Homo sapiens: one gene and its partners. The protein of the gene in region 4 purifies or fractionates together with the protein of the main gene of each other region. This does not show direct contact. Each region holds a gene or a part of one and is shown on either strand. Other genes may lie near its edges. The genes, in order: CCDC85C, AP3B1, RAB3GAP1, IQGAP3, NCKIPSD, THUMPD3 and PJA2.

The links.
Region 1: the proteins of IQGAP3 (region 4) and CCDC85C purify together in Homo sapiens (co-immunoprecipitation; one large-scale study listed by IntAct). This does not show direct contact.
Region 2: the proteins of IQGAP3 (region 4) and AP3B1 purify together in Homo sapiens (co-immunoprecipitation; one large-scale study listed by IntAct). This does not show direct contact.
Region 3: the proteins of IQGAP3 (region 4) and RAB3GAP1 purify together in Homo sapiens (co-immunoprecipitation; one large-scale study listed by IntAct). This does not show direct contact.
Region 5: the proteins of IQGAP3 (region 4) and NCKIPSD purify together in Homo sapiens (co-immunoprecipitation; one large-scale study listed by IntAct). This does not show direct contact.
Region 6: the proteins of IQGAP3 (region 4) and THUMPD3 purify together in Homo sapiens (co-immunoprecipitation; one large-scale study listed by IntAct). This does not show direct contact.
Region 7: the proteins of IQGAP3 (region 4) and PJA2 purify together in Homo sapiens (co-immunoprecipitation; one large-scale study listed by IntAct). This does not show direct contact.

What each region holds. Positions count from the first base shown.
Region 1 is NC_000014.9:99,499,300-99,503,782, forward strand, and holds the end of CCDC85C (coiled-coil domain-containing protein 85C), read right to left. Parts: 3' UTR 4,346-4,483; coding exon of another isoform or gene 4,312-4,345; 3' UTR 3,686-4,311; coding exon of another isoform or gene 3,420-3,685; 3' UTR 3,078-3,419; coding exon of another isoform or gene 2,908-3,077; 3' UTR 2,115-2,907; coding exon of another isoform or gene 2,057-2,114; 3' UTR 1,573-2,056; coding exon of another isoform or gene 1,467-1,572; 3' UTR 891-1,466; downstream 1-890. Other genes in the region: CCNK (cyclin-K), read left to right, coding at 1,467-1,572, 2,057-2,114, 2,908-3,077, 3,420-3,685, 4,312-4,345. UniProt on the Homo sapiens protein: May play a role in cell-cell adhesion and epithelium development through its interaction with proteins of the beta-catenin family. May play an important role in cortical development, especially in the maintenance of radial glia.
Region 2 is NC_000005.10:78,224,615-78,229,079, reverse strand, and holds part of AP3B1 (AP-3 complex subunit beta-1), read left to right. Parts: intron 1-840; coding exon 841-936; intron 937-1,547; coding exon 1,548-1,708; intron 1,709-3,471; coding exon 3,472-3,538; intron 3,539-4,465. UniProt on the Homo sapiens protein: Subunit of non-clathrin- and clathrin-associated adaptor protein complex 3 (AP-3) that plays a role in protein sorting in the late-Golgi/trans-Golgi network (TGN) and/or endosomes.
Region 3 is NC_000002.12:135,058,380-135,062,844, reverse strand, and holds part of RAB3GAP1 (rab3 GTPase-activating protein catalytic subunit), read right to left. Parts: intron 1-4,465. UniProt on the Homo sapiens protein: Catalytic subunit of the Rab3 GTPase-activating (Rab3GAP) complex composed of RAB3GAP1 and RAB3GAP2, which has GTPase-activating protein (GAP) activity towards various Rab3 subfamily members (RAB3A, RAB3B, RAB3C and RAB3D), RAB5A and RAB43, and guanine nucleotide exchange factor (GEF) activity towards RAB18.
Region 4 is NC_000001.11:156,527,566-156,531,065, reverse strand, and holds part of IQGAP3 (ras GTPase-activating-like protein IQGAP3), read left to right. Parts: intron 1-748; coding exon 749-961; intron 962-1,636; exon of another isoform or gene 1,637-1,736; intron 1,737-1,983; coding exon 1,984-2,150; intron 2,151-2,455; coding exon 2,456-2,557; intron 2,558-3,005; coding exon 3,006-3,114; intron 3,115-3,500.
Region 5 is NC_000003.12:48,675,564-48,680,028, forward strand, and holds part of NCKIPSD (NCK-interacting protein with SH3 domain), read right to left. Parts: intron 4,325-4,465; coding exon 4,238-4,324; intron 4,151-4,237; coding exon 4,012-4,150; intron 3,895-4,011; coding exon 3,814-3,894; intron 3,621-3,813; coding exon 3,492-3,620; intron 3,407-3,491; coding exon 3,314-3,406; intron 3,174-3,313; coding exon 3,001-3,173; intron 1-3,000. UniProt on the Homo sapiens protein: Has an important role in stress fiber formation induced by active diaphanous protein homolog 1 (DRF1). Induces microspike formation, in vivo. In vitro, stimulates N-WASP-induced ARP2/3 complex activation in the absence of CDC42.
Region 6 is NC_000003.12:9,365,597-9,370,061, forward strand, and holds part of THUMPD3 (tRNA (guanine(6)-N(2))-methyltransferase THUMP3), read left to right. Parts: intron 1-1,311; coding exon 1,312-1,389; intron 1,390-4,465. UniProt on the Homo sapiens protein: Catalytic subunit of the THUMPD3-TRM112 methyltransferase complex, that specifically mediates the S-adenosyl-L-methionine-dependent N(2)-methylation of guanosine nucleotide at position 6 (m2G6) in tRNAs.
Region 7 is NC_000005.10:109,371,637-109,376,101, forward strand, and holds part of PJA2 (E3 ubiquitin-protein ligase Praja-2), read right to left. Parts: intron 1-4,465.

The DNA of each region.
Region 1 (4,483 bases), on a different chromosome or scaffold from region 4:
AGTGCTGGGATTACAGGCATGAGCCACCATGTCCAGCCCAGTTTTTTTTACACTGTGTGAAAGTTTCTAAGATTTTAAAAAACTTTCATGAGAAAATGCTTGGGAAACTAAGATTGAAAAACCTTAGTCTTGCCATGTAATTTGGAATAATAATTATAGAATCATCTCTGTATCCTATAAAATAATACCATGCTTCTAAATGAAAGCCAGTGACCTGTGGGTCTCTGCACCTGTTGATGAGATTTACAGTCCTCTACAACGCCCTGTCTTTGATGCCAAACAAGGAATTCTCTCAAATTGTCCTCCCCGCACACAGTGTCTTGGTTGTGGTTTATGTTGTCTTTAAGCAGTAGGTACAGTCGGCTGTACAGGGGCTGAGTTCAAGACATTAGTTAGAGAGTATCATCAAAGAGGACATTCCATTAACGATAGCAACAGTAAAATATCCAAGGTTAAACCTTGTGGAAACCTCGTTAGTGGGGTGGAAAGGACTTTAAAACAACTAAAGGACTGAAAAGATATTAATAAATTTTTGGAAGGAAACTTCAATATGGTTAAAAATCTCCATTCTCCCTAATTATTCTATAAATCCTCTGAGTTTCCAATGAGAATATTAATAGCATGTATGTTTTCTGTAATGATACTAAGTAAAATGGTTACTAAAATTTGAGTGAGGGGGACATGCAGAACCCAGAAACTGTTTGAAAAAGAGAAGTAATACTGGAGCTATTGTATCCCACCCAAATCCCTTTGATCCTGGTCCAGGAGTAGACAGGCAGATCAGTGAACAGAAAAGATAGTGTGTGTGTAGGCAGACATACACACGTAGTTTAGGAGGTGATTTAGGTAGCATTTTAAATAAAATTGGAAATGATCATTTATTCAGTAAGTGTTGTTGGGATGATTTATTTCAAATAAATGAAAGATTTAAACACAAAATTGATTTGCCCCCATTTGCACGTAATACACTATATGTGTACATGAGTATATATACACACACATACACACACACTGGTACAATTTATCTCTGAGTTTTCATGAGGCTGGCTATCATAAACTCTTTCTTGCTTAAAATGTTTTCAATGAAAATTCCTAAAAGATTGCATTTTTAAAATTTGAGGTCTTGAAAGAAATTACAATTTAGTCAAATTATCAATAACGTAAAGATCTGTTTTGTAAAGGGAGACTCATGTATGTATTGAAAATAATAATATTTTTAAGGATCTTTTGTTTTCAGTATTTTTTTTTACATTACACCTCTGCTTTGTCTTCCTGTTTGAGATCTTTTCAGAATTTATCAGTGTCTCTGAGCATGTTAAAAGTCTGAGTGGGAGAGAAAGGAAGGAAAGGCAGTTGCTAAAATATAACTTGAAGAGAGAATAAATAGACAGGAAAGCTCACTTTTGTAATGCTGCTTGAGACCTGCAATTGTAATTACTGTCCTAACATTTGTGATTGATTTTTAGGAGGAAGTAATGGTTCTGGAGAGAATCTTACTGCAGACCATCAAGTTTGATTTACAGGTAGAACATCCATACCAGTTCCTACTAAAATATGCAAAGCAACTCAAAGGTAAGAAGAAAGTTTTCAGAAGAATTTTTTCATTCTGAAATCAAGTCTTTATAATTTGATGACACTCAAATTACGCTTCTCAAAAGCGGAAAACAAAGTTTGATGTGTGAAATACCAAGGGCATGGCTTGCTCAGTCAATTCAGCATTGCAGCTGCTAATGCTGTTTCCTTTTATGTATAAACAGGCTCTGTCATCCAGTTGCCAAGTGATGGGAGAGGCAGGAAAATGAGGCAGAATTTTTTAAATGGACTAATAAACTTAGCCTTGGAGCCAGGTTTTCCATACATGGTGGTTCAGCGTAGGTCATGAGGAGGAAGAAGGGGTAGGATGTGGACCCACATCATTCATCCTTGTTTCCCACGCAAAAGCTCTTTGCTGTGTATTTGAGTGGTGCTGAACACGTGGTAGGTTTTTAATAAATACTTGATGCTGCCTGTGAATTTTTCTATTGCTATTAATTTACCTTTTTGTCCCCATTTCTAGGTGATAAAAACAAAATTCAAAAGTTGGTTCAAATGGCATGGACATTTGTAAATGACAGGTATACATGTTCAAATGTTGATTAATTACAGTATTTTAAAATAGGCAGAGACTTTATGGACCATTTCATCTAAACCCCTCATTTTGTGTCAGAAGAAACTGACTTGCCCTGGCTTGAGGAGCCAGTTAATGGCAAAGCTGGGGCTGACGTCCAGGTCATCTGCTTCCCGGCAGAGGGTTTCCTTCTGCCCTGCCGTGTCATGGTGTTGTGAGGTGCTGAAATTTTATCACCAGTCTGAAACATAAGTCCAAAACAATACACTGGAGAATTTTGAAAACTAATTACTTAGAGCCCATTTGGTTTTGCAAAAATATACTTCCTGGTATAGTTTTAGAGCCTTAACACTCTTTTGAGAGGCCAGGGATCTAATGAGGGGCCGTGGTGGGAAACAGAATGCCTGTGAATGGAGTTGCTGCCAGCCCCATCCCACTGCAGTCAGTGAAGCTTCTCTTACATTTGACTTCCTCCATAAGATTTCATTTGAAGAAACAGTTGAGTGGCTAGGATTTCAACAGTTTAAATAACATAAGTCATTTTCATTGGTGTAGCAATTTTTGGATGTGCTAGAATTCTTCTGATTCTTTAAGGAATAGAGAAATTACTAACTATGGTTAAAGTAACTTAGTCGGGTACCTTTAGAAGAGTAAAGACTTGAGTTTATTTATTTATAGTACTTTAATTAAATTTAGGGGAGAATAAGCAAATTAATGGTTAGTTATGGCATCTCCATGCACTGGTTTAATCATAAATATTAGATCATATTATCTAACCTTTTTTTTTCTTGTTGAACTAGTCTCTGCACCACCTTGTCACTGCAGTGGGAACCAGAGATCATAGCAGTAGCAGTGATGTATCTCGCAGGACGTTTGTGCAAATTTGAAATACAAGAATGGACCTCCAAACCCATGTATAGGAGATGGTGGGAGCAGTTTGTTCAAGATGTCCCGGTCGACGTTTTGGAAGGTACCAGGCATGCTAAGCGTTCTCGTGAGGGTGTTCCATGTTGAGATGATTCTTCCATGTGTACCCTGAGTCCCAAGAATGGATTTTCCCAGATAGACATATGTGAGCAATATTTCAGAAGCATCATTAATTAAATTATCTAATAGTTTCCACTTTGTCCAAACACATACTTTTGGTAAACTAAAAATACACACCAGTGTTGCACACAACGAAGATGGGGTGAGTTGTAAATGTGATTCATGCTTAGGTCCTCGTAGGGGTATCATAACTGATTCTTTATCCAGGTAAAATTTTATTTAAAATACCAATTTGTGTAAAATGTAATTGTTGGCTATCATTTAGACATCTGCCACCAAATCCTGGATCTTTACTCACAAGGAAAACAACAGATGCCTCATCACACCCCCCATCAGCTGCAACAGCCCCCATCTCTTCAGCCTACACCACAAGTGCCGCAAGTACAGCAGTCACAGCCGTCTCAAAGCTCCGAACCATCCCAGCCCCAGCAGAAGGACCCCCAGCAACCAGCCCAGCAGCAGCAGCCAGCCCAACAGCCCAAGAAACCCTCTCCGCAGCCCAGTTCTCCCCGACAGGTTAAGCGAGCCGTGGTGAGTGGGCTAAAGCAGGCCCTGGGTAGAGCAGGCTTTCCAGGTGGCGGCAACACCTGAGCACTGTTCCCATTTCTAAGCGAGCACAGGGAACACCGGAAGCAGGGGGTGTTCGCCGAAACTCGCAGTCCGACTGCTTGTCGGTGGGGAGCCTGAAAACAAAGGTGCTCCAAGGACAGGCTGCCTCTGAGAACCAGGAGGGGGCTCTCTGCCCGGCTCCAGCCCTGCTGCCTGTTTCATCCCTGCCAGGGTTCTGAAGCCTGTCGGTGTCGTTGCCGTGTCCTAGCAGTGTCGTTGTGCATGCTGCTTCTGTGCAGCTGCCTGACCCCAAACAGTGGACCGTTTCCTGCACCCAAGTGGTCCTGAAACTTAGTGTTTACTCAGAACTCACCATTCAGGAAAGCTAGTCATTCTGTCTTATTTGGTAAATGGAAAGAGGAAGGGAGCAGAAATGATGATCTGGTAGGTGCCGTGGTTTGCCCTGAAAGTTCAGGCTAGAAATAATTTTTGTCCGAGGCTGTTCACAGTGACTGCCGTCGCTGATTCTGGTGGTACCTGGATAATCCATTTTTTTCTCATCATACTCAGGATCCCAGTTAACAATTGTGTATTTTCTTTTGTAACAGGTTGTTTCTCCCAAAGAAGAGAACAAAGCAGCAGGTAATTTCCTGTTCTGATGTTTTTTTAGTTTTATGTGTTTATATGCAAAACTTTAAATTCTTAGCCAACATTGTTTCTTTTCAGATCTAAATTGGCCTTAAATCTTAACTTTAGAGCTCATACAAAACTTTTCCATCA
Region 2 (4,465 bases), on a different chromosome or scaffold from region 4:
ATACCTGTAGTTCCAGCCACTGGAGAGGCTGAGGTGGGAGGATGGCATGAGGCCAGGAGGTTGAGGCTGCAGTGAGCCGTGATTGTGCTATTGCACTGCACCCTGTGCGACAAAGCAAGACTGTGTCTCAGAAAAAAAATCGAAAACCAAAAAAAACTGTTTCCAGAACACACATCCAATCTTCTTGAATTTTTATTACGTTAAATTGGTATTCATAGTCACACATTATTCTTACTGGACTGAAAATATCATGTAATGCGTGTTGAAATGTGAGTATTACCATAAAAATCAGAGTTAGGGCTCTGGACTCTTTTAACAGATGAGGAAACAAGTTCCCATAACATATAGTTAGTGGCCTGGGCCCAAATTCTTTCTCTTATTATTTTTTAAAGAGGTAGGGTCTCTCTGTGTTGCCCAGGATAGCCTCTAACTCCTGGGCTCAAGTGATCCTCCTGCCTCAGCCTCCTGTGTAGCTGGGACTACAAGCATGTACGCCATGCCTGGCTTCTTTCTTTTATTTTTATCCCTCATTTTGAAAATATTTTTACAATTTAGTTAATATTCTTATATGAGATCTGCTCAGGGATTTTTTATTCCCTTCAAGAGGAAGGGACACTTTGATAGGCTATTGCTATTGTGAACTGGACTATTAAAATGCTTACTTTAAAAGCTTTTCCTGTTGTACTTATTATCCCACAAAATATTATTTTTATTTTACAATCTAACATGTGACCAGATTCAGTTATTTACTTGAGAAGAATTGAGCATGGATTTTGGTATAGCAAATACTGAGTTTTAAATTTTCACTCTGGTTATGAATAAATGATTTTTTTTTAACAGATCAAGAAGTTGGTATATGTTTACCTGGTTCGATATGCTGAAGAACAGCAGGATCTTGCACTCCTGTCCATAAGCACTTTTCAGCGAGCTCTGAAGGTAAATAATGGAGTGAGTAGGCAAATAGCTACAAGGTTTCTGCAGAGTTGAAAGTGTGTCAGTTAAAGAAGTGGAGCGATAATCCACTAAATAGCACAGTAGTGTCTTGAAAGAGTTAAAAGCCTCCTATAGTGCCTACTCAGTACACTTAGAAAATAATTTATACAACCAACTGAAACCTTGCTGTATATGTTACAGCTTCTGTATGTTTGTTTATATTCAATATAATTATTTTCATGCTTCAAAGAGCTGTTTATCATTATACTAGTTGTTGAAAGTACGCAAAAGGGGTTATAAGACATTTTTAAACATGAAATTGATGACCTGCAGCATTTTATTATTATGAAAGTATAAAAACCCAGCATATTTAGTAATAAATGACCAACTAGAATTATAACTATTACTTTTCTTTAAAACATTATTAAAGAAGTAAACATTTATGTCTGTCTTTTTTTCCCATTCCTATATACTAATTGTTCATTTTAAATTAAGTAGCTTTCTTTTGCTATTGTCATATTACACCCTTTAAGCACCTATTAACTGTGTCTGAAAGATATGTTTAAAATATTGTAAAGTTGAAATTTTGGTGAATATTTTTGCACTATTTTTAGGACCCAAACCAACTAATTCGTGCAAGCGCTTTGAGAGTTCTGTCAAGTATTAGAGTGCCAATTATTGTACCTATCATGATGCTTGCTATTAAGGAAGCTTCTGCTGACTTATCACCATATGTTAGGAAGAATGCAGCCCATGCAATACAAAAATTATACAGGTAGGTGCATTGTTAACAATATACCAAAGATCTCTGATGTTACATGGAATGTTATAGACCACAGAGGCTTGTTTTATTCGCTCTTTTAGGTAGGCTGCTCTTACACTAAGTAAATCCAGTGACTGTATGATGGTATTTCCCCCTGCTGCAAATGTTCCTTACACATCTTTAATTTCGTTTTGGCTATAGAGACCCTATGCAGGTTTTTATTTGTGAGGCTGTTAGAGCCTGTGATAATTTATAGATTTTATAACTTAAGAATAATCAGAATTTGAATTCTCATTTATATAGTCTATCTCATGTACACATATGCTTGTATTATTAGAAAATTGAGATTTTTTTTTCCTGTTTAGGGTAGAATCTTAAGTGTCTGATCCTCTCAACTCACTTATATGTGTTTTCCTTTCTTCCATCTTTGTTCCTGCTGCTCCCTTCGTTGTCTAATTCTTTTCCAGAGCTATTTTATTAAGTAATTTTAAAAAGTGTAGTGATTTGAAATATAGTGTGCTATACCATATCTGTGTGATATTTTAGAAATGTTATGCAATATTATACAATGCCCTGATCTCTGTGGAAAATTTACTGTCCAAATAGAATTGTCTACAACAATTTGGTATTATTTTCAGCTATCATTTATTCCTCAAGCTTTTTGAGACTCTCTTCTGTTTCTGGTGTTGTATTCACAGTATTGTGCTATGTGTATTTAGATGTATGAAAACAGTAGAGGATGTGGCACTTAATTATGAATAGCATATCATGTATTTGAGGAAGAAGATCAAAGACATACCAAATAATTAAAGGCAATCTATAATGAATAAGATATTAGCACTTGATATATATGTATATACAAAGGTACACTAGCAATGTCTTTGATAGGACAGGGACCAGAGATGATCATATTTTGTTACCGGAAAGTAAAGATGTAATGAGATGGGATTGGTAGTGAAATACTGCTTTGAGAAGGAAGACTTAAGCTGAAATTTGAAAGAATTAAAAAGTTTGTCCAGATAATTATAATGTTTAGTAATAAATGTGTATGTTTGTAGAAAGTGAAACCTCATATTCCTATGTTAACTGCCAGACAAGGTTTTATCATGCTTCTCACTCACCTTTTCTCCTTAGAAACTTATGGGATAAGATCCATGCTCACTCTAACGGCTTAAAAGTCCTTCTATCATTGGGCACCAGTATATTCCAGCCTCAATGCTTGCCTCTCCTTGCCTTGAGCTTATAGTCTGTTAGTATTCTATCTCAAATGTTTTAAGCTTATTACTACCTCTTATTTTTCCTAGTTTTAGTTGGCAGATTTTATAATGCATGTCTCTATCAGTGAACTAGTATGATATAAAATTCTTATTTGGAAATTCTCCATATTTGTTTTTGGGAAGTATGTATGCATAGTAAAATAATGACTGCTATCTAGTTATTTTTTTCCTCCCAGTTGAAAAGAGTTTGTGGTTTATCTACTTACAGTCGCTTTCTTGAAGTTTTCCAACTCTTTTAGAAGTGAACTTGTTCTTTCAGTACTATCTTAACTAAACCATTGATATCTGGTTTAGTTAATATGAACAATATTAGAGGGAAAGATGAGGACACATTCATGAGAAAAACCATCCCATTTTATTTGTTTTTCTTTATTTCTAACTTATAATTCTTGCTCTCCTTTCCCTCTTTAAAAATTTCTCAACATCCTTGAATTGGTGAGCATCATGTAAAGCTAGAATTAAAGGGAAAAATTAATATGTTATTTTTGTATTTTTTAGCCTTGATCCAGAGCAGAAGGAAATGTTAATTGAAGTAATTGAAAAACTTCTGAAAGATAAAAGCACAGTAAGTAATGTCTTTTTACGTCTTTGACATAAAAATGTACTTTATTTACATAGTATCATTTACCATTATATATTTTATATAGTTGTATTTATTGATTTCAAAATGGTATAAATATTAATGGCACACAGGACTATTTTTAAAGAACAAAAATTTTCATGTAATGAGAAAGACTGCATTTGGAGTTTTAGATCGTTATGTGTTTCTTCATCAGAATCTGAAAAAAGGCAAGTTGAGAAAAAAATCTTTAACCTGTGGCTAAGTGGTTAACATGGTAAGATCAAGGAATAGAGGTGACCTATGGGGGATGTGAGTTACTAGTGTACTAGTATCTTAGATGGGGCTTTTGTACCCACTTTATATTTCTCAAAACTACTGAGGAAAAGGATTCCAGCTCATCTTAGGATGCTATCATCAGGGAGTATGTACTATCTATGCATGGCAGCTATCTAATACAGTAGGCAGTAGCCCTGTGTAGCTGTAACTATTGGTTTATGGCTTAGCATTTGATCTATCCTGGATAATGTTCAATAAACATTTGATTAGAATGTGTATTCTGCTGTTGTTGAGTGGAGTGTTCTATAGATATCTGTTTTTTAGTGTTGTTCAAATCTTCTACTTTGCTGATCTTATGCCTACTTGTTCTATTCATTATTGAAAACAGGGTATTGAAGTCTCTTTAATTCTGTTAGTGTTTGCTTCATCTATTTAGGAGATTGGATGTTTGGTGCATGTATGTTTATAATTTTTTTAATCTTCCTTTTGTCATTGTAAAATGTTCCTCTTTATCTCTAGTAACATTTTTTTGTTTTAATGTCTGTTTTGCCTGTTATAAATACTACTATTCTAGCTTTTTTATGGTTGCTGTTTCCATTATATATCTTTTTCCATCCTTTTACTTTCAGCCTGTTTATATTTTTGCATCTATTG
Region 3 (4,465 bases), on a different chromosome or scaffold from region 4:
CTATGTACTAGCAGTGAACAACTGGAAAACAAAACTAAAAAACAATTCCATTTATTTTTGCATCATACAACATAAAATCCTTAGTAATAAATTTAACAAAGGATATACAAGACCTCTACCAAAACTACAAAATGTTGCTGAGGAAAATTAAAGATGACCTAAATAAATGGAGAGATGTGCCATGTTCATGACTAGAACTTTCAAAACTGTTAAAATGTCTCCAAAGTGATCTACAAATTCAACCCAACCCCAATTACAGTCTCAGCATAATCATACTCCTTTTTATAGTAATTAGCAAGCCTATTCTAAAATTCATAATTGAAACACAAAAGATCTAAAATCTTGGGAAAACAACAAAAATGGAGAATTTACATTAACATCAGGATTTACTAAAAATCCATTCAATGGTTCTCAGCTGGGGCCAATTTTGCCCCTCAGCGGGCATTTGGCAATATCTGGATACAATTTTGGTTGTCACAACTGGAAACATGTTACTGGCATCTGGCAGGTAGAAACCAAAGATACTATTAAATATTTGACAATGCATAAGACAGCCTCACAACAATGTGGCCCAAAATGTCAATAGTGCCAAGGTTAGGAAACCTGAAACTACAGTAATCAAGACAATATACGACGGGCGCAGTGCCTCATGCCCGTAATCCCAGCACTTTGGGAAGCCGAGGCGGGCGGATCAGCTGAGGTCAAGAGTTCAAGACCAGCCTGGCCAACATGGTGGCAGGAGGCTGCAGTGAGCCAAGATCAAGCACTCCAGCCTGGGTGACAGAGTGAGACTCTGTCTCAAAAAAAAAAGAAAAAGACAATATGGTATTGACATAAGGATAGTCAAATAGACTAATGAAACAGAATACAGACTCCAGAAGTAGACCACTTAGGTCAACTACTCAATAAAGGTGACAAAGCAACTCAATGGAAAAAGTGTTTTCCAAAGTAGGTTCTAGAACAACAGGATATCCATACACAAAAAAAAGGAAGAAGAAACTTGATCCCTACTTCCCTCCATATAGTAGCTCAAAATAAATCATAGACCTTAACAAAGGTTAAATGATAAATTGGTAAACCCTCTAGAAAAATGCATTAAAAACATCTTCACAACCTAGCAAAACTACTGAGAAAAGACTTAAAAGCAGAATATATATATACCAAAAAAAAACTAAAAGAACTCCTACAACTCAATAAAAACAAAATCCAATTTTTAAAATGGATAAAGAACTTGAAAAGACATTTCACAAAGGAAGATAAACAAATGGCTAATAAATGCATGAAAATTCAAAGTGGTCAATATTAATATCATCACAGAAATACAGACTAAAACCAAAATGAGAAATATAAATTAAAAGCACAAACTACATACCCATTAAGATGACTAAAATATACATGACTGCAAACAACTGATTGTTGGTGAGAATGTATAGCAACACAACCTCCCATGTATTGATGGTGGGCAGGTAAAACAGTACAAAAAGCTCTAGCTGTTTCTTATAAAGTTGCACCTATCCTATTACCCAGTGATTCCAATCCTAGGTATTTACTCAAGAGAAATAAAAACATATGCCCACAAAAGGCCTCATACAATAATGTTCTGCTTTATTCCTAATAGTACGTATGTGGACAAGTGAAAGAAACCATGTATATTCATAAAACAGATCACTTACTACACAGCAATAAAGAGAAATGAAATTCTGGTATGTACAACAACCTAGATGAATCTCAAAAACATTATCGTGAGTAAAGGATGTCAAGGACATTTATGGTCACCTAAATGTAAAGTTCTAAAGCAGGTGACAGTAATTTATGTTTATTTAAAAAAAAAAAAAAAAAAAGGCTGGGCCCAGTGGTTCACACTTGTAATCCCAGCACTTTGGGAGGCCCAGGCAAGCAGATTGCTTTAGGCCAGGAATTGGAGACCAGCCTGGCCAACGTGGTGAAAATACAAAATACTAGAAACACAAAAATAGCCAGGCAAGGTGGCATATGCCTGTCGTCTCAGCTTCTTGGGAGGCTAAGGCATATGACTTGCTTGAACCCGGGAGGCAGAGGTTGCAATGAGCCAAGATCACACCAATGCACTCCAGCCTGGGCAACAGAGCAAGACTCTGTCTCAAATAATAATAATAATAACAATAATAATAATAGCAGATGACTGGAGGGCATGGGAATTAACTAGAAAGGGTCACTAAGGATCTTCCTGGGGTAACAGAGATGACCTCTATCTTGACAGGAGTGTAAGTTATACCCATGTGAACATTTGTCAAAATCAAGCAGTTGGCCAGGCGCGGTGGCTCACACCTGTAATCCCAGCACTTTGGGAGGCCGAGGCGGGCAGATCACAAGGTCAGGAGATCGAGACCATCCTGGCTAACACAGTGAAACCCCGTCTCTACTAAAAAATACAAAAAATTAGCCAGGTGTGGTGGCGGGTGCCTGTAGTCGCAGCCACTTGGGAGGCTGAGGCAGGAGAATCTCTTGAACCCGGGAGGTGGAGGTTGCGGTGAGCTGAGATCATGTCACTGCACTTCAGCCTGGGCAACAGAGCGAGACTCGGTCTCAAAAAAAAAAAAAAAAAAAAATCAAGCAGTTAAGTTTTGTCCATTACAATGTATATAAATCTTACCCAAAAAAAAACTATTAAAAAAATCTAGTGGAGGTAGGGGAGTAAACAGAGGTACCACTCAAACAAGAAATGGCAAAGTATTAATTGTTGACATTAAGTGATGGGTACATGGGAGTTCATTATACTATTCTGTTTACTTCATATATGTTTGAAATTTTCCATAATTAAAGGTTTTTAATAAATAATTTCCCTTAATTCCCCCTCAGTGGAGGAGAAAATTAATAATCACTGTCCTTCATATAAGTTAAAATCTTCAAAGGAAGTCTCTAAACTTTGTTTTCTACACCAAACAATCCCTGTCCTCTACACTTTCTTCATATTCATCATAGTTACAGCTCACCTTGAAATCTGCCCATATTTTCTGTATCTTATTTATGTACTACTATCTAGTAGGGAGAAACAGACTGGAGCTATGACTTCATTAGCCTCTACTACATGCCTGGCAGTATGCTACCTACTTTAAATAACTACCCACTTAAATCCCAAAACTGAATTTAGCATCTAAAACTTTAACCCTTAGAGTGACTTTAGTTAACACTAATTGACTGTACATTTCAAAATAGCTAAAAGAGAGTAACTTGCATGTTCTTAGCATAAAGATAAATATTTAAGGGTTCCCAAGTACCCTGATTTGATTATATGCATGTATCAAATTATCACATGTACCCCAAAATATGTACATCTATCATATATCAATTTAAAAAATAATAATAAAATAAAATTTTAATGTTTCTTTACTGATCACCCTCACTAGAATTTATGTTCAATGGCAACACTGATCTTATCTTGTTCACAATTTCTTCACATCAGGCACATAGCAGGTACTCAGTAAATACATGTAAATCAAAGAATGAAAGAATATCAGAGCTCATAAGTACCCGGTTTAGCTCTCTTCTTAGTAGTGTAAATCATTTCCTATTCTAGCTATATCCAGCTTATTTTGCCTCTAATCTTATTGGCATCTATATCAATTGTTATGTATTTGTTTCAAGTGGAGTAGAATGACCCGTGTTTGAAAGCGTCACATTTTCTTTATTCACACATGTAGTGTAGTAAATCAATGTATATATTGCCAAGAGTCTTTGAATGATGTATTTTTTATATGTGGTCTTACTTTTTCTGTTCATATTGATACAAATAAGGAGATTTTTTTTCCTTAAGAGACAGGGTCTCACCATGTTGCCTGGCTTCCTAATGCATTTTGACAGTCTCTTTTTTGATAGTATCACCATCACAAAGCTGAAAACCCCTAGCAAATATTGAGAACTCAAAGTTCCTAACACAGGGTAAATTATAATTAAATTACTATTGAATTAATAATTACTGAGTTAATAAGTTATCACTGAGTTAGTAATATTGAGTTGTAATAAAACCAACCATAAATTTTATTTCAAAAGAATTTATCTAACAAACTAAGCATCTACATAAACTTAAAATCAAATTGTTAGATCCCTTCACAGTGAATCCAGGTTTGTTCTCAGAGTACATTCTTCAGTAAACATTTGGGGTGTGGTTTATGAATAAAACTACCAATACTTTAGATTAGAATTTGATTTCTACCTCAATTTCAAAGAGTAATTTTTTCATTCTTAAATAAAATCCTTAAAACATCCATAAGTTAAAAAGCTTAAAAGGGAAGGGGGATGTTATTAGTGATATTATAAAATACAAAAACTGAGTGAAATAGTTGTTAACTACAGTAAGTCAATGGTAAGTACTAGAATTTTCCTCATTAGTAAGCAAAATATGCTACCAAAGAAGATGGTCACTGCAATGTTTCTCTGACCAAATAAAAAACTTTTAAAAACATGTTTTAACATTCCAAGGGAGAAG
Region 4 (3,500 bases):
ACATCAGCCAGAAGCAGACACCTGTGCTCACCAGTAATGAGAACTCTGGAGGCCTACAGGATGAGGGATACAGCTTTAGCCTTGGGAAGCCTCGGGCTACAGAGTCATGGGGCCCCACCCCTCTCCCCACTTCACACACTGAAACAAGCACCAACACTAGGGCTATGGGGGGCACTGAGAGACCGTCTGGGAATGCTCCCCTGGAAGGCCTGCACTCAGAAGAGTGGTCTGCTAGAATGCCTGGAGGCAGGAGAAGGTAGTAGGCAGGTGGGGGGCCAGGGGCAGGTTGGGCCCGCTGGAGTGAAGACTGAACCAGGGTCTTCCCAAAGAAAAGGTGGGGATGGCCAGTAGAGGTATGTCCCAAAACAGAACAGACAGGTAAATGCCCCCAAACATCCTGTGCCGTCAGAAAGATCCATTGTTGGGAAGTCACAGCTAGTGTCTGTCCGGAATCCTTTATGCCATGGCCTGGGTTTGGTTCTCCTTTGGGCCACTCTTCCCCTGTGGTGATCTATGAGGCCCTCCCATGTGTGACACCATGCATTATGGTGTTATACCTTGATATTCTTCATAAGCGATGCCCTGCCCCAGCCATATCCTGCAGAGGCTGGGCTCTGGGGCACTTTCTTAATGATATGCAGAAAAATGCTCAGGCCTCCCTTTGTTGCTGGTGCCCATGGGACCTTCACTGGTGTGGGAGCAGAATGGTAGGACCTGGTAGACCCCTCCAGCGTCTGTGTGTCCCCAGGAAGCAGCCCACAAGCAGCTGATGAGCCGACGCCAGGCCTGTACAGCCCAGACACCGGAGCCACTGCGACGACACCGCTCACTGACAGCTCACTCCCTCCTGCCACTGGCAGAGAAGCAGCGGCGCGTCCTGCGGAACCTACGCCGACTTGAAGCCCTGGGGTTGGTCAGCGCCAGAAATGGCTACCAGGGGCTAGTGGACGAGCTGGCCAAGGTAACAACCTGGGCCTGGGCTCCGTGTGCCTGTGTGTACGTGTGTGTGTGTGCGTGCATATACATGTTAATCCATAGTGTTGGTGGGCCCCTCCTGATGAGTCCTCACCCAAAATTGTCACCAGCCAGAGGAAGGCTGAGGGTCCTTTTTGAAGGAAAGATTTTTTTTTCTTTTTTTTTTTTTTTTTTGAGACAGTCTCACTCTCATCCAGGCTGGAGAGCAGTGGTGTGATCCTGGCTCACTGCAACCTTCACCTCCTGGGTTCAAGTGATTCTCCTGCCTCAGCCTCCCAAGTAGCTGGGATTACAGGTGCGCGCTGCCATGCCCGGCTAATTTTTGTATTTTTAGTAGAGACACGGTTTCAGGCCATGTTGGCCTGGCTGGTTTCGAACTCCTGACCTCAGGGTCCGCCCATCTTGGCCTCCCAAAATGCTGGGATTACAGGTGTGAGCCACTGCACCCAGCCAAATTTTTGTATTTTTAGTAGAGACAGGGTTTCACCATGTTGGCCAGGCTGGTCTCAAACTCCTGACCTCAAGTAATCTGCCCACCTTAGGCTCTCACAAAGTGCTGGGATTACAGGTGTGAATCACCACTCCTAGCCTGAAGGAAAGATCTTGAAATTAGTTAGAGAGGAAGGTGTTCTTGCAACTCTCTTTTTTTTTTTCTTCCCCACATTAGCTGGGTAATGTGCCCAGGTCAGAAGGTTTGAGAGAAGCATATCTCACACAAGAGCATGAAAACCCAATCCTCAGCTTATGACCTACAAAAGTATCCTTGCAACTTTCTTTTACTAAAAAACAAACAGCCTTGAAACCAGTTAGTCCTCAACGGGCAGAGGCCCTGAGGACATGCCTTGAGGATTTGGAATACCATCCTTGAGATTTTCCTTCTAGGAAAACAGCCTTGAAGCCTGTTCTTCCGAAGAGCCTCACAGTGTGTAGCTCTTGGGCCTGTGTCAGGCCCTAAGGCTCTCCTGCCAGGAAGGACCACTCATCCCTCCATCTGTTCCCCAACCCCAGGACATCCGCAACCAGCACAGACACAGGCACAGGCGGAAGGCAGAGCTGGTGAAGCTGCAGGCCACATTACAGGGCCTGAGCACTAAGACCACCTTCTATGAGGAGCAGGGTGACTACTACAGCCAGTACATCCGGGCCTGCCTGGACCACCTGGCCCCCGACTCCAAGTAGGTGCTGCTTTCCCGTACTTGGAAGGTTACGAGTGACTTCTCACCCCTGCCCATGTCACCTTTGCCCTGCTATCTCCCAGCTTTGAAAGGGGAATCTCACCCAGCACAGCACAGTCCCTTCCTAAGTCTGGTCTTTGAGCCTCATTTACAAAGTCTTGGGCTCAAGTGCAGCCCCCCTCCTCTGTCTTCCATCAGTGAGAAGTCTTCCTCGGGGTCTCATTTCCTTTCCAGCCACAGAAAACAAGTTTCTTTGGTGGTAAAGTGTTTATTGGATGAATTCTCTGGGGCCTTCTTTTAATCAGGAGTTCTGGGAAGGGGAAGAAGCAGCCTTCTCTTCATTACACTGCTGCTCAGCTCCTGGAAAAGGGTGTCTTGGTGGAAATTGAAGATCTTCCCGCCTCTCAGTATGTGTCTTTGGAGGGCAGGATGTCAGCCCCTTCCTGTCCTCTAACCTGGGGGTGGAGCTCTGGGCTGGGCACCGGGTGGAAGAGAAGAAGCATGGTCCCGATCTTGAAGGAGCTGCTAGAATGATGGTGGAGACAGAGCATGCCCAGACAGAAAGTGAAGGGCTGTGGACATGGTCTAGCACAGTTCTAGATGCCCTGAGGCAGAGGGTACTGGGAAAGCTTTCCAGAGGTGAGAACAGCTGCGTAGGGCGGGGCAGATAAAGAGATGGTGTGGGGAGCAGAAGTAAAATGGAGAAGACAGCGAGCTGGGCCCTCTGGGAGTGACAGAGGGAAAACTGGTTCTGGATGACACCGCTGCCCAGGATGAGGAGCAGTGGGTGCAAGAATGTGGCTGTAGCCCTGGAAAGAGGCAGTGGGTTCCTGTTTTGAATCCTGTTCCTGACAGCTTCAGAAACGTCATCTTTGACATCACGCCGGGAGATGAGGCAGGAAAGTTTGAAGTAAATGCCAAGTTCCTGGGTGTGGACATGGAGCGATTTCAGCTTCACTATCAGGTGAGGGGACAGTCCCATGAGCCTGCAGGACATCTGCTGGGCTTTAGGTGCTGGCCTGAAGAGAGCAGCTGGCCTCACTTTCCTAGTCCTCAGATGACACCAGCTCAGTTTTTCACCCAATCAGTATCGTCTGTTCCTGAAGAGAAGGGTGGGGGTCTGTGCAGCCCAAGCCCCCCTTTCCCCATGCCCTGACACAGACCCCACTGGCAAGCATCAGGGAGAGTGGAGTGGGCTACTGGTGTCAGAAGCAGGATTAATATTTGAAGCCCTATCACATGTCAGGGACTTTACATGTTACCTCCTTTAATCCTCTCCACAGCTCTGAAGTATTATCCCTATTTTACAGGCTCTAGGCTAAAAGGTTAAGAAGCTGGCTAAGTCATAGG
Region 5 (4,465 bases), on a different chromosome or scaffold from region 4:
CAGGGTCTCGTGCTGTCACCCAGGCTGGAGTGCAGTGGCATGATCTTGGCTCACTGCAACCTCTGACTCCTGGATTCAAGTGATTCTCCTGCCTCAGCCTCCCAAATAGCTGGGATTACAGGCATGTGCCAAAATGCCTGGCTAATTTTTGTATTTTTTTTAAGAAGAGACGGGGTTTCGCCATGTTGGCCAGGCTGGTTTCAAACTCCAGACTTCAAGTGATCCACCCACCTCGGCCTCCCAAAGTGCTGGGATTACAGGCGTGAACCACCACGCCCGGCCAGCCCTTATGACTTGACAGCTTGTTCTCACAGAGACCCCCAGTCCACTGACCTGATGTCTGCTTCCCTCAACATCCCTCATTTCTCTTTTTACCTTTAATTAGAGAAATAATACCAAAACCTCCTTTAGGCAGCACACCCTGCTAAGTCCCAGCCCTGGGAGTCATACTGAGGTGCCTGCACATCAAACACCAGCGTCTAAGCTATAGACAAATGCAGAGCCATGTGCAGGCCTGAATGTCATTCACCACCGCAAACCTCAAACGGACACACAGCACTGCCTGAGCCTCCCACTGCTTTTCTCTGCTGTGTCACTCTCCCTTAGAGTAGTAATAATGTCCACCTTCTCTGTCTTTGAAACCTACCTACCTTGTCAGCTGGCCTTGTGCTTCATAGAGAATACAGAAGTAATCTTGCAGAAACCCGTCTTTCCCCTCAGTACCCACATCTCACCTGTCCCTACCAGAATGAGCAGCCCTAGCTCCTGTCCATGTGGGCCTGGACCTGAACTCTCCCCTCCTGCCCCATCCACTTGACTCCTGTGGTGGCTCACCATCTCCAACACATCATCCATCTCTCTGTGCTTGCTGGATCATTCCCTCCGGCTCAGAACATGCACCATCATCCGTACCATTTTTGTTTTTGTTTTTTAAAGAGACAAGGTCTGGCTTTGTTGCCCAGGCTGGAGTGCAATGACACAATCATGGCTCAATGCAGCCTTGACCTCCTGGGCTCAAGTAATCTTCCCACTTCAGCCTCCAAAGTAGTTGGAATTACAGGTGCATACCACCATGCCCAGCTAATTTTATTTTCTACTGTGGTCCATCAGGTTATACAGAGGTCTCACTATGTTGCCCAGGCTGATCTTGAACTCATGGACTCAAGTGATCCTCCCACTTCGGCCTCCCAAAGTGCTGGGATTATAGGCGTGAGCCACTGCACCTGGCCAACATCCCCCATCTGTCACCCAAGCTGGAGTGCAGTGGTGTGATCTTGGCTCACAGCAACCTCCACCTCCCGGGTTCAAGCAATTCTCCTGCCTCAGCCTCCCAAGTAGGTGGGATTACAGGCTCCCACCACCATACCCAGCTAATTTTTGTATTTTTCGTATTTTGTATTTTTAGTAGAGACCACTTTGACCAGGCTGGTCTCGAATTCCTGACCTCAAGTGATCCACCCACCTCAGCCTCCCAAAGTGCTGGGATTACAAGCATGAGCCACCGCGCCTGGCCAACATCCCCCATCTTCAAAACACTCTCCCTGGCCAGGCACGGTGGCTCACACCTGTAATCCCAACACTTTGGGAGGCTGAGGCAGGTGGATTGCATGAGGTCAGGAGTTCAAGACCAGCCTGGCCAACATGGCGAAACCCTGTCTCTGCTAAAATATAAAAATTAGCTGGGTGTGGTAGTGGGTGACTGTAATCCCAGCAACTTGGGAGGCTGAGGCAGGAGAATCACTTGAAACCAGGAGGCGGAGGTTACAGTGAGCCACGATCGTGCCACTACACTCCAGCCTTGGCAACAGTGGGAGACAAACAAACAAACAAACAACAACAACAAAAAACCCCCAAAAAAACACTCTCCCTATCCCCATGTCATCTCTCTCCAGCAACCTCCCTTCCATTTTTCTCTTCCCCTTAATAGAAAATTCACAAGAGTTGTCTCCATTTACTGCTTCCAACCCTCCCCTCATTTCTACTCCCCAATAACTTCAAGCTCTCTCAAACTTTCATTCAGACTCTCCTCCTTGCACCCCACTGACACTGCTTGTCAGGCACCACTGACCTCTGTGTGGTGAATCCAATGGCCAACCCCAGTCTCGCTCAGGCTCCTAACGGTATAGAGATGGCTGATCGTCTTCCTCTAAACATGTGGCTTTGGGCTCCTGCTTTCTTGGTTCTCTTCCTGGGTTTCTCCCTAGTTGTTTCAGCTGTGCCCAGGGCTGCAGCCCGAACTTCCCGCTGACCTGCCTATCTATCTCATTTCTGAGGCAATCACATTGTCACAGGCTTCCCATCGTATCTCTGCATAGACCACTCCGAAATGTCTCTCTAGTCTCAACTCATTCCCCACTGCCTCCCTGATGCCCTCGGTACCTGGGTGTCTAGCAGATATCTCCTCATTCTTGACACATTCAAAACACGACTCTCTATTTTCCCCCAAGAAGTTCTCCCAGCCTCCCCAACTTCAAAAATCAGCACTTCATCCATCTAGCTGCTCAAGATAAATCAAGTGGCAAGCCCTGCCAGATCCACTTACTAAACACTCCACAGCTGGCCTCTTCTCGCCACTGCCACTGCCACGACCTATCCCATCCCCACCCCATCCATGCCACCTGGACCACTGAGGCTGCTTCCTCCCTGGCTGGCTTCCACTCTGCTGGCATGCAGTTGATTCCATGTGGGATGTTAATCACATCACATTCCCCGGTCCTGAGATCACAACCTCTTGCAGCAGCCTCCGAGGCTTTGTGTAAACTCCATCCTCCATGCCTCATCTCCCTCCACTCCCTCCTCTCCAGCCTCCTCCAGCCCCACCACCTCCAGATCACCTCATGGCTGGCTCCTTTGGGTCTTGGTGCACCTATCATGGCCTCCTACACTTACCTGGCTCCAGCAGTGGCCTTGCCCCCTCATCTCCACTCAATGTCATGCCCCCCACCATTTTGTTTCAGTTTCCACACAGTGACCCCCGCTGCTGCAGCCACCTCCAGGCACCTTGTCTCCTGGTGACAGGTCTGCGATGTGCCGCACAGTGATGTCAATGAGAGCCATCATGTCTGTGTGGTAGAAGATGGCAGCTGTGGCCGGGCTGCCAAACACGTCCTGCAGGAACTTGAGGACAGAGTGTGGTGGCTGTGGCTCATGTTTGAAGATGCGCACAGGGTCATCTAGGAGGCAGGGGTCATAGCGGTCAGGGTGGACCTTGTGGGGATCCCAGAGTCACCCCAGGGGGTTACGGGAGTCATTGCAGGGGTCATGGAGTCACAGGGCATGGAAGTGGTACCCGCGCAGATTCCCGGGCCCTCACCCCCTCTGTTCAGGAGCAACAACAGCTTCTCGGAGAAGATCTTGACATTGGCGTGTTTGCTCAGGGCAGCCATGATGACATTCTGGTCAGCAGCTAAGGAAGGACATGGGTATAGACAGGGTGCTGAGCCTGAGAGCCACCATGTGCTCAGCCACCGCCCAGCCAGGCCCCACCCCACCTGGCAGGTGCAGGTTGAGAGCCAGAAGCAGGTTCACGCAGAGGTCCGGCAGCTGCTCTGTGGTGTCCAAGGGCAGCCCATCCTCGACGATGTTCAGTAGGAACTGGGCGAAAGGCGTGCCCAGGTGCTCTGGGAGAGGGGCGCACAGAAGTCTGCAGCCCCATTCCCCTCCGACCCCCGCACCACCCACCCTTCCTGGCTTTCTGTGAGCCTTGGGGATAGCCTCTCCCTGCTAGGCTGTGTAGTCAGCAGGTCCCAGGCCCTCGGGCAATGGGCCCTGGCTTAGGACCTGTGATCAGCTGGTCGGTTACTGCATTCTTACCATAGTGTGCATAGGGCACTGCCTCTCCCATGGAGAAGACCATGGCCAGGATGAGGGCAGAGTAACAGAGTTTCTGGTGGTCTGGGGGGGACAAGGCAGGCAGTCAGAGTCCCCAAAGATGGCAGGAAACCCCAGCAGATGGCAGGAACACCCTCCAGATAGCAGGAAGTTCCCTCCTACCCCGCCCTCCAGCCTCACCCTGCGTGTCTGTCTGCATGTCCCTCGCCAGCTCTACAGGCAGCACGGATGACACAAGCGTGGAGATGATGGCTGCATCCAGGCTGCACATGGCGCCAAAGCACTTGAGGAGCAGCAGCCGCAGTGATGCTCGGTGTTCCTGGCAGGGAACCCTGCGTGCTCAGTGCCTGGAACTCCCCCACTATCTAGGTCTCTCCATTACCCCTCCCCTCCATCCTGCACATACCATTTGGTAATAGGCCACCAAGGCCAGGACAGACTCGAACTCGTTTCTCTTGCACATTTTCTTGCAAACTTCAGGGTCTGCATCAGTCTACAGAAATGAGGAAGTGAGAGCATCAGCCACCATGAGCGGAGCTGTGCAGCCGCACAAGAGAGGGCTGAGCACATATGTGTAGGGGAGACTCCTAGCACTGTGAGGGATGCTACAGGGTGGGGGCCACTGTTCCCCATG
Region 6 (4,465 bases), on a different chromosome or scaffold from region 4:
TTTTCTTTTTCTTTGAGACAGAGTCTTGCTCTGTCATCAGGCTGGAGTGCAATGGCGCGATCTTGGCTCACTGCAACCTCCGCCTCCCAGGTTCAAGCAATTCTCCTGCCTCAGCCTCCCCAGTAGCTGGGACTACAGGCGCCCGCCACCGCATCTGGCTAATTTTTGTATATTTAGTAGAAACGGGGTTTCACCATCCTGGCCAGGCTGGTCTCGAACTCCTAACCCCGTGATCCACCCGCCTCGACCTCCCAAAGTGCTGGGATTACAGGCCTGAGCCACTGCGCTCGGCCTGCCAGTTGAGCATTTCTAATCTGAAAATCCGAAATGCTGCACTGAGCATTTCCTTTCAGCATTGTGTTGGGGCTCAAAAAGTTTCAGATTTTTAGATGTGGGCTGCTCAACCTGTAGTAGGATTGCTACATTTTTAGAGGTGATCTAGTATTTCTTGAGGATTGAATTCACCAGAAAGAATACTGTTCAACTTAAGAAATTCTCTAAGTATCTCAGTATTTATTTACTTCAGCATATAGCAGATGTTTAACCTTTGGTGATGAAACATAAAAGAGATTTTCCTTTTAATTTGCATCAAAAATTCTTGCTCAGAAGTAATTAGGACTCACTCAAGGTAAAAAGTGAAGGTCAGAAAACTGCAATCTCACTATCATAAAGCTGATATATCTCATTACCACATAAGCAGTGAGAGGGCAAGGATTGTTGTCTATTTTTTTTTCCACCAATATATCCCACGCTCTTAGTGTCTGGCATATAGTAGGTACCCAGAAAATATCTGTGGGATGAATTGGTAAGCAAATGTTTTCCATCCAATATTTTAGCCAATACCCTCAGCAGCTTTGTGAAGATAGGCACTATTATTATCCTCATTAATCATTAGGCTTAGGACACATAAATAATTTCCCCAGGGCCACTCAGCTAGTAATCACAGAACTGGAGCTCAAATCCCCTGCTTTTAACCATTGCAGCATACAGTGTACCCTAGAAAGTCATCGAGGAAATATGATACAGCCCACCTGAGTGGCTTCACCTTTCTCTTCTCCCACAAAAGACGTGTTGCCCACAAAACACTTCATGCTTCTCTCTTTCCATCTGCCCTTTTTCCCTTTCTCTAGGGGAAAGCTGATTAGTAACCAAAGAGATGAGAAACTAGGGAGATGGGACATTTTAAAAATACAAAATATAGTTAGTAGCTGCTTTAAAACTATCATTCCTAATTTTTTAAATACTTAATTGTTGATAGCTTGTGCTGTTCAAAAGCTTTCTCAGAAATGTGTTTCTTTTTTTTTCACCCAGGTTCATTGTCTGAGATCAGTTGATAACTTATTTGTGGTGGTTCAGGAGTTTCAAGATTACCAGTTCAAACAAACAAAGGTGAGCTATCCTAAACATGGTGGCTGATTTTTGGCTGTCTTCCACAAAGAGATTATTTCCATTTTTCATAGTCTGTGAAAGTTTAGCATTACTGTAGTCTTTGTAATAGAGAATACTGGGAGGCTTTTACAGTAAAATCTAGAGTTTTGCTGACAGTCTATCCCAAAAGATGTTTTTTGAAAATTAGTATTGAAAACCATTAAAGTTTATAAGAAAGAAGAAAACACCTTGTTTTACTTGTAAGAGATATAAACCTTAGATTTGCTTTGCTTTTACATATATTTAGTTCCAAAAGAGAATTGCTTCCAGAACATGAACCAAAGAACAAGTGACAGTTTGTGTCTTCTACAAATAACACTTCCTCACCATCCTGCTTTTGCTCTGCTTTCTTCTCTTTCTTCATTTTTTGAAATAAAGCCAAAATAACATCTAAATACTCCTTCAGTTGTTAGGACAACAGCTTTGTCTCCAATATGTATTTAGCATCTGAATCCTAAATATTCAGCTGCTGCCTAAGCTGAAGGTTGAAAATAGATTGCAGCAAGGCTTTAGGTTTTTTCCACACTGCTTTTTGGTTAGGTTTCTAGAGTTAACCGCTTAAAAACATTTTTCTATCAGTTTTACGTATCTTAGAAATAATCTTTTTAAAAACAACTGTGATACGCTACCTAATTGTCTAACTTTTATTTATTGGCAAGCATGTTGATTTCCAAAACGTTATTCAAAAACGAGTCAAAGTTGTATGAACCCTCAGCCTAGAAAACAATAAGACCAGACCTAAAAGAAGTCAGACTTAAGGGCCTGGCGTGGTGGCTCACACCTGTAATCCCAGCACTTTGGGAGGCCGAGGCGGGTGGATCATGAGGTCAGGAGATCGAGACCATCCTGGCTAACACGGTGAAACCCCGTCTCTACTAAAAATATAAAAAATTAGCCGGGCGTAGTGGTGGGCGCCTGTAGTCCCAGCTACTCAGGAGGCTGAGGCAGGAGAATGGCGTGAACCCGGGAGGCGGAGCTGGCAGTGAGCAGAGATCACACCACTGCACTCCAGCCTGGGCGACAGAGCGAGACTCCATCTCAAAAAAAAAAGTCAGACTGAAAATAGATAAAAATTGTATTAAGTAAAAATCTAACTTTTAGAAAAGCTTAAAGCAATTCTAATGAGTTCTCTTAAGTATTCAGATGATAATCATGAATTTATTAGTCCCCACCCCCCTCTTTTAAAAAATATTGAGATGGGGTCTCACTATGTTGCCCAGGCTGGTCTCAAACTTCTGGGCTCAAGTGATCCTCCCACTTAAGCCTCCCAAAGTGCTGGGATTACAGGTGTAAGCCATTGCACCTGGCCCCCATTCCCCACCTCCACCCGCGCATATTTTTTTTTTTTTTTTTTTTGAGACAGAGTCTTGCTCTGTTGCCTAGGCTGGAGTGCAGTGGCACAATCTCAGCCTACTGCAACCTCTGCCACCTGGGTTCAAGCGATTCTCCTGCCTCAGCCTCCCGAGTAGCTGGGACTATAGGCATATGCCACCATGCCCGGCTAATTTTTGTATTTTTAGTAGAGACGGGGTTTCAGCATCTTGGCCAGGCTGGTCTTGAACTCCTGACCTCGTGATCCACCTGTCTTGGCCTCTCAAAGTGCTGGGGTTACAGGCGTAAGCCACCGCGCCTGGCCTCCATCTGCCTTTTTAAAAGTATGAACAAATCTGTGATTTATATGGGTTTTTAAAGACTAGTTAATACATGTATTTGGAGCAAACTTGTAAAGACTGAATGGATATAGAGTGAAAAGTAAGTCTTTGTTCCTATATCCTCATGCTATGCAGCTCCCTCCCTGGAGGCAACAACTGTTAGCAATTTCTTGGGTATTATTCTGGAGATATTTTACGAATAAATGTATTTTATTTACACAAATGAAAGCATAGCATACATACTTTTCTGCGCTATGCTTTTTTTTCATATACAAGTTGAGTATCCCTTATCTGAAATACTCGGGACCAGAAATGTTTTGGATTTTTGTTTGTTTGTTTTTTGAAATATTCTGGGTTGGGCATGGTGGCTCACACCTGTAATCCCAGCACTTTGGGAAGCCAAAGCAGGTGAATCATGAGGTCAGGAGTTTGAGAGCAGCATGGCCAAGGTGGTGAAACACCATCTCTACTAAAAATACAAAAATTAGCCGGGTGCGGTGGCGGGCTTCTGTAATTCCAGCTACTCGGGAGGCTGAGGCAGGAGAATCACTTGAACCCGGGAGGCAGAAGTTGCAGTGAGCCGAGATCACGCCACTGCACTCTAGTCTGGGCAACAGAGCAAGACTCCGTCTCAAAAAAAAAAAAAAAAAAAAAAAAGAAAGAAATACTCTGAGGGTGGAACCTATGTATAAATAAATCCAAGATTCATTTGTTTCATATATACGTTATACGTATAGCTTGACGGTAATTTTATATGATTTTTAAAATAATTTATACATGAAACAAAGTTTGTGTACACTGAACCATCAGAAAGCAAAGGTGTCACTATCTCAGCTACCTGTGTGGCATCATGTTGGCACTTCAAAAAAATTTTAGGTTTTGGATTTTGGACTTTGAGATTAGGAATGTTCAACCTATATGTTGGAGATCCTGGCAGTATCATTGCTGGAATTGGCTGCGTATACTCCATTGTTTGGCTGTATAATAATTTAACCAGTCCCATTTTAGGGCATGAGGGTTTTTCACATTCTTTTGCTATTACAGTGGTGCAACAAATACACTATGTAAATTCTTGTACATATTCAAACTGAGTGTCATCTTTGTGTTTATCCCATTGATACTTATTGATAATGACAACTGTTTAGTCTTAGTTTTGTCATGCTCATACTTTTTGTTTTTTCTTAATTTGAAAAATCTTTACATTATGTCTTTACTTTTTTCATATGCCTGTGTTTTCTAATAGTTTGGAAGGTTTATGTGTGTGTGTTCTAGCTGTTACCTTTATAACTACAATTTGATATTATCTACCTTATCTACCATATATACACGGTATTTTTTGAATCCCTGCTAAAAGCAATGATGAAATTGGCATATTTATACTTTTT
Region 7 (4,465 bases), on a different chromosome or scaffold from region 4:
ACTACCATCACTTCAATTTACATATCAAACAGTATGTTTATAGTATTACTCCAAAAAACCTTCAACAGCTCTTTTTTCTAATGCTACTGCTTTAGTTTCACAAACAAGCCATTTGCCTATCACTCTCACAATTTTTGCTGCAGTTGCACATTAACCCTCTGTCTTAAGGTACGATAGTTGAGAATACAGGTCCTGGTCAGCTTGCCTGGAGTTAAACCCACCACTTATTAGCTATGAAAACCTCTCTATGCCTTTTTAGCCTCACATATCAGGTGAATACAACAACAGTATTTAATAGTTCACTGGGTTCATGTAAAGGGTAAGTGAGTTAATATATATAAAACATTTTCACAATGCCTGATAAATAATGAGCCATCAATAACTGTTAGCGAGTCTTTTTTTAACATTTTTTTAAACTCAAATACATTTAGTTAGGATAAGCAATAGCCATTAAGTCCTGAATTTGATGTGCTACCTATATTTTCTTAATTTCCATTAACATAAATACATAATGATTAAATTAAAAACATTGTGTACCACTTAATATATTTTACCCACTTTGGAAATAGTGACCTATAGAATAAAAAGTTAAATGTCTTTGAATAACACTTATAATTTACTGCTATCTGATCCCAGTACTTTCTTGCATCCAACTCAAGAATGCTCTATTTCAAACAGTGTCCTCAAAGTGGGCATTCTTGCCATCAGGAATATCTTTATAATCACTTCACCTTTTCCCCACTTCCAAACACAGATCAGACTCTATTTCTTTCAAGACCTTCCTGTATAAAATCGCTTCTTTTGTTTTTCAATTATTTCATGAACTAGACTTCTTGTTTACTCAGTGCAGCTCACTACAACACAGCTGCTTCTTTAACATTGCAATTATTTTTCATAATAGTGCAGAGAAATCAAAGAAAATGGGTACTGAGAAAAGACAAATGGATGTGGAAATCAGGAGGTCACCACTGACATTAAAGAATATAGGGCCGGGTGCAGTGGCTCATGCCTGTAATCCCAGCACTTTGGGAGGTTGAGGCAGGTGAATCACCTGAGGTCGGGAGCTCGAGACCAGCCTAAGCAACATGGAGAAAACTGGTCTCTACTAAAAATACAAAATTAGCTGGGTGTGGTGGCGCATGCCTGTAATCCCAGCTACTCAGGAGGCTGAGGCAGGAGAATCGCTTGAACCTGGGAGGTGGAGGTTGTGGTGAGCCAAGATGGTACCATTGCACTCCAGCCTTGGCAACTAGAGCAACACTCCGTCTCAAAAAAAAAAAAAAAAAAAAAGAAAGAAAGAAAAAAAAATTAGCCAGGCATGGTGGTGCACACCTGTAGTCCCAGCTACTCAGGAGGCTGAGGCAGGAGAATTGCTTGAACCCAGGAGGTGGAGGTTGCAGTGAGCTGAGATTGCACCGCTGCACTCCAGCCTAGGTGACAAAGCGAGACTGTCTCAATAAAAAAGAATACAGAAATAATATTAGGAATTAGATTTCAAGGCAGTAAGAAGAGTGGATAGTGACAGAATAGAGACAGTGGGTATGGAAAACTTTTTCTTAAAATTCAGCAGTAGAAAAGAAAACACAAACAGGCAAATAACAGAGCAAGAAAAAGTAAAGGTTTTCTTCAAGATTGAGAAAAACTCAAGGTTGAGAGACAGAGGGAAGCAACCTGTGAGTAAGGACAATTAGATGAAGTGTCAGAAATAACTAGAGGCACAGAATGAGAGGGGCTACCTCTCTTCATTGAAGAGGAAATTAAAAATACAAATAAATACTACTATCCCCTAATATGGAGAAGAGGAAAATAAGAAAATTCACATTTACATATTTTTAACTTCTACAGGAAAATAAGAAACGAAGCTAACCATTAGGAGTGACAGGAGTACATGGAAGGAAAAAAGGGAAAAGATTTAAAAATCACTTTTTAAGGAGTAAGCAACAGAACAAATAGGACACAAAAATGATCATGGAACAGTGAAGATCCATTTGTTCTAGATTTTAAAAGCGGGTGAATGACACATTTAAAAGTTCTCAAAGTAAAAACTAAATTAAGTACTACTTTGATCTTCATATGATCCTTCACTGGTACTGATCCCTTTTAGCACCTAAGAGTTGTATTTAAAAAGCAGACAACTATAATTTACTCAAATGTTACACTCTACACATTCAATTGTGAACTAAAAAAACTTGATATACAGAATGAAATTATAGACAAAATTTATGTACAAATCCTAGGCAGAAATAAGCTATGGAAACATAAAACCAACCAAAAGTAATCTCTCATTCCATAATTCCCCAAGGTACTTGTTACTTTGTTCTTCCTGGCATTTATCACAGCCACAAGAAACTCAACTACAGGAGCCTAGGAAAAAGTGAAATTTTAAATATTTTGTTATCTGACATAATCTAAACATTCTGGAACTTTTTACCACTATTAACACTGAACTGTAATGTAATACAGTGATATGAATGGATTATGTCCAAATATATAAGTCTGCTTAATTTCATTAAGATGGCTATGATTTTTGCATTGTGCCTGCTTTTTGTCACTTTCTGGTCTTTTTCCTTAGTATCAGGTTATTGTAATCCCATGAACTCCCTAGCATATCTGCAGAACAAACACATTTATACCTAATGTGCTCCTTCCAAACTTCTATGAACTTGAAAACAAGATAAAAAGGTTTGCTAAAATGTCAGCACATATGCTTTAAGATCTGTGCCTTGGCTGCATATAGATGTTTTATTTGTTGGGGGTAGTACCAAGTTCTCAGACAAACTCTTTCTTTGTGGCTCTCAGGTAACCTACACGGAACAGGAAAGGCGCTTAATTCAGCCTCACAATAATAAATACGTATATTTTGTCTTCTTCATAAAGCTAGTGAACCTTGTGGGAACAGGGACCATTATGATTTGTATTAACAGGGCACCTGGAACAAAGTCTGGCACTTAAGATTTCAACAAATCCTTTAATATATCATATTGAAGTCAACTAAATGGCTAACAATCATTTTATTTCCCAACATCATCAACAAAGTAAGTTGTCCCAACATTTTACCTTAAGTAAGGTTTTTAAATTTTAAGCAAAGTTAAGTCCTAAGGCCACAAAAATTCTGCAAGAAACCTCAAATGCTATAAGTAAGGAACAGACAGTAGATGGCATGCCTCTCTTCAGAGCAGTTAGGCCCAAGGTTAAGATATGCTAGTATTGCTGAAAGGTTTTTTTTAAACTCAAGATCTTGTCCTCAAACAGTTACTAAACTTCTCAGGGTATATTTCAAAAGAGCAGGGTATTAACCTTAGCTCTTTGGTCTAATTCTAAGTCTGGTAATTATATGCTGCCTATTAAAATTCCCCTTGGAATCCTAATTTAATAAGGTGGTGCTCAGTACCTGTCAAACAGCTCAGAGCAATGCTACTGGCTGCAATGTTTATCCCACAGAGTGTAACATTTCAGATGTGATTAAATGATCATTTAGAATTTTTCAGGGAAGAAGGCAATCATGAATTCATTAAAATACTTTTCTACTTAAAAAGAATATATAATTCATATTTTTAAAAAGTAGCCAAAATTCCTATATCTAAAAATGCTGGCCGGGTGCAGTGGCTCACGCCTGTAATCTTGACACTCTGGGAGGCTGAGGCGGGTGGATCACTTGAGGTCACAGGTTCAAGACCAGCATGACCAACATGGTGAAACCCCATCTCTACTAAAAATACAAAAATTAGCTGGGCATGATGGCATGCCTGTGGTCCCAGTTATTCAGAAGGCTGAGGCAGAAGAATCACTTGAACCTAGGAGGCAGAGGTTGCAGCGAGCCGAGATCACGCCACTGCACTCCAGCCTGGGCAACAGAGAGAAACTCTGTCTCGAAATAAATAAATAAAAAATAAAAAAATAAAAATGCCACAATGAACTTTAGTTATATTCTTGATGAGTTCTACTTTGGCTATTATAAGCATGACAAAAAAAAACTTTTCAAGTATATCAACTTTTTAAGCTTTACAAAAAAACTCAAAGTTCACAGGCCCAAATTAAGCAGCAGCTCTTATACTTTCCATCCAAAACCTGAGAAGACTAGCATCACCATCTCTCCAATCTACAAATACAAGAACTAGGGAGGATGACAATGAAACATCAGGGAGATGAACAAGGGCAAAATGAAACTAAATAGGAGTGTACAGCTATTAAATTCCAACCTTTAGCTGGCACCATATTAAAAAGGCACCCTGGCAACTATAATCCTTTGCAGGGAATTAGGGTAGAGGAACAGGACACAGCAGCATAGAAACAGAGTTTCTGTTCAGAAATAGAATAATCTGTACAGAAAACTGTACAGACACTTTGAGATCGTAAAACATATCTTAAGGCTATGGATAAAAATATAAGTACAGTCCTAGGCAGAACCATTATCCTTTAGAATTTATTCTATGATTCTTTAAAACAAAACGAAACAAGAAACTTT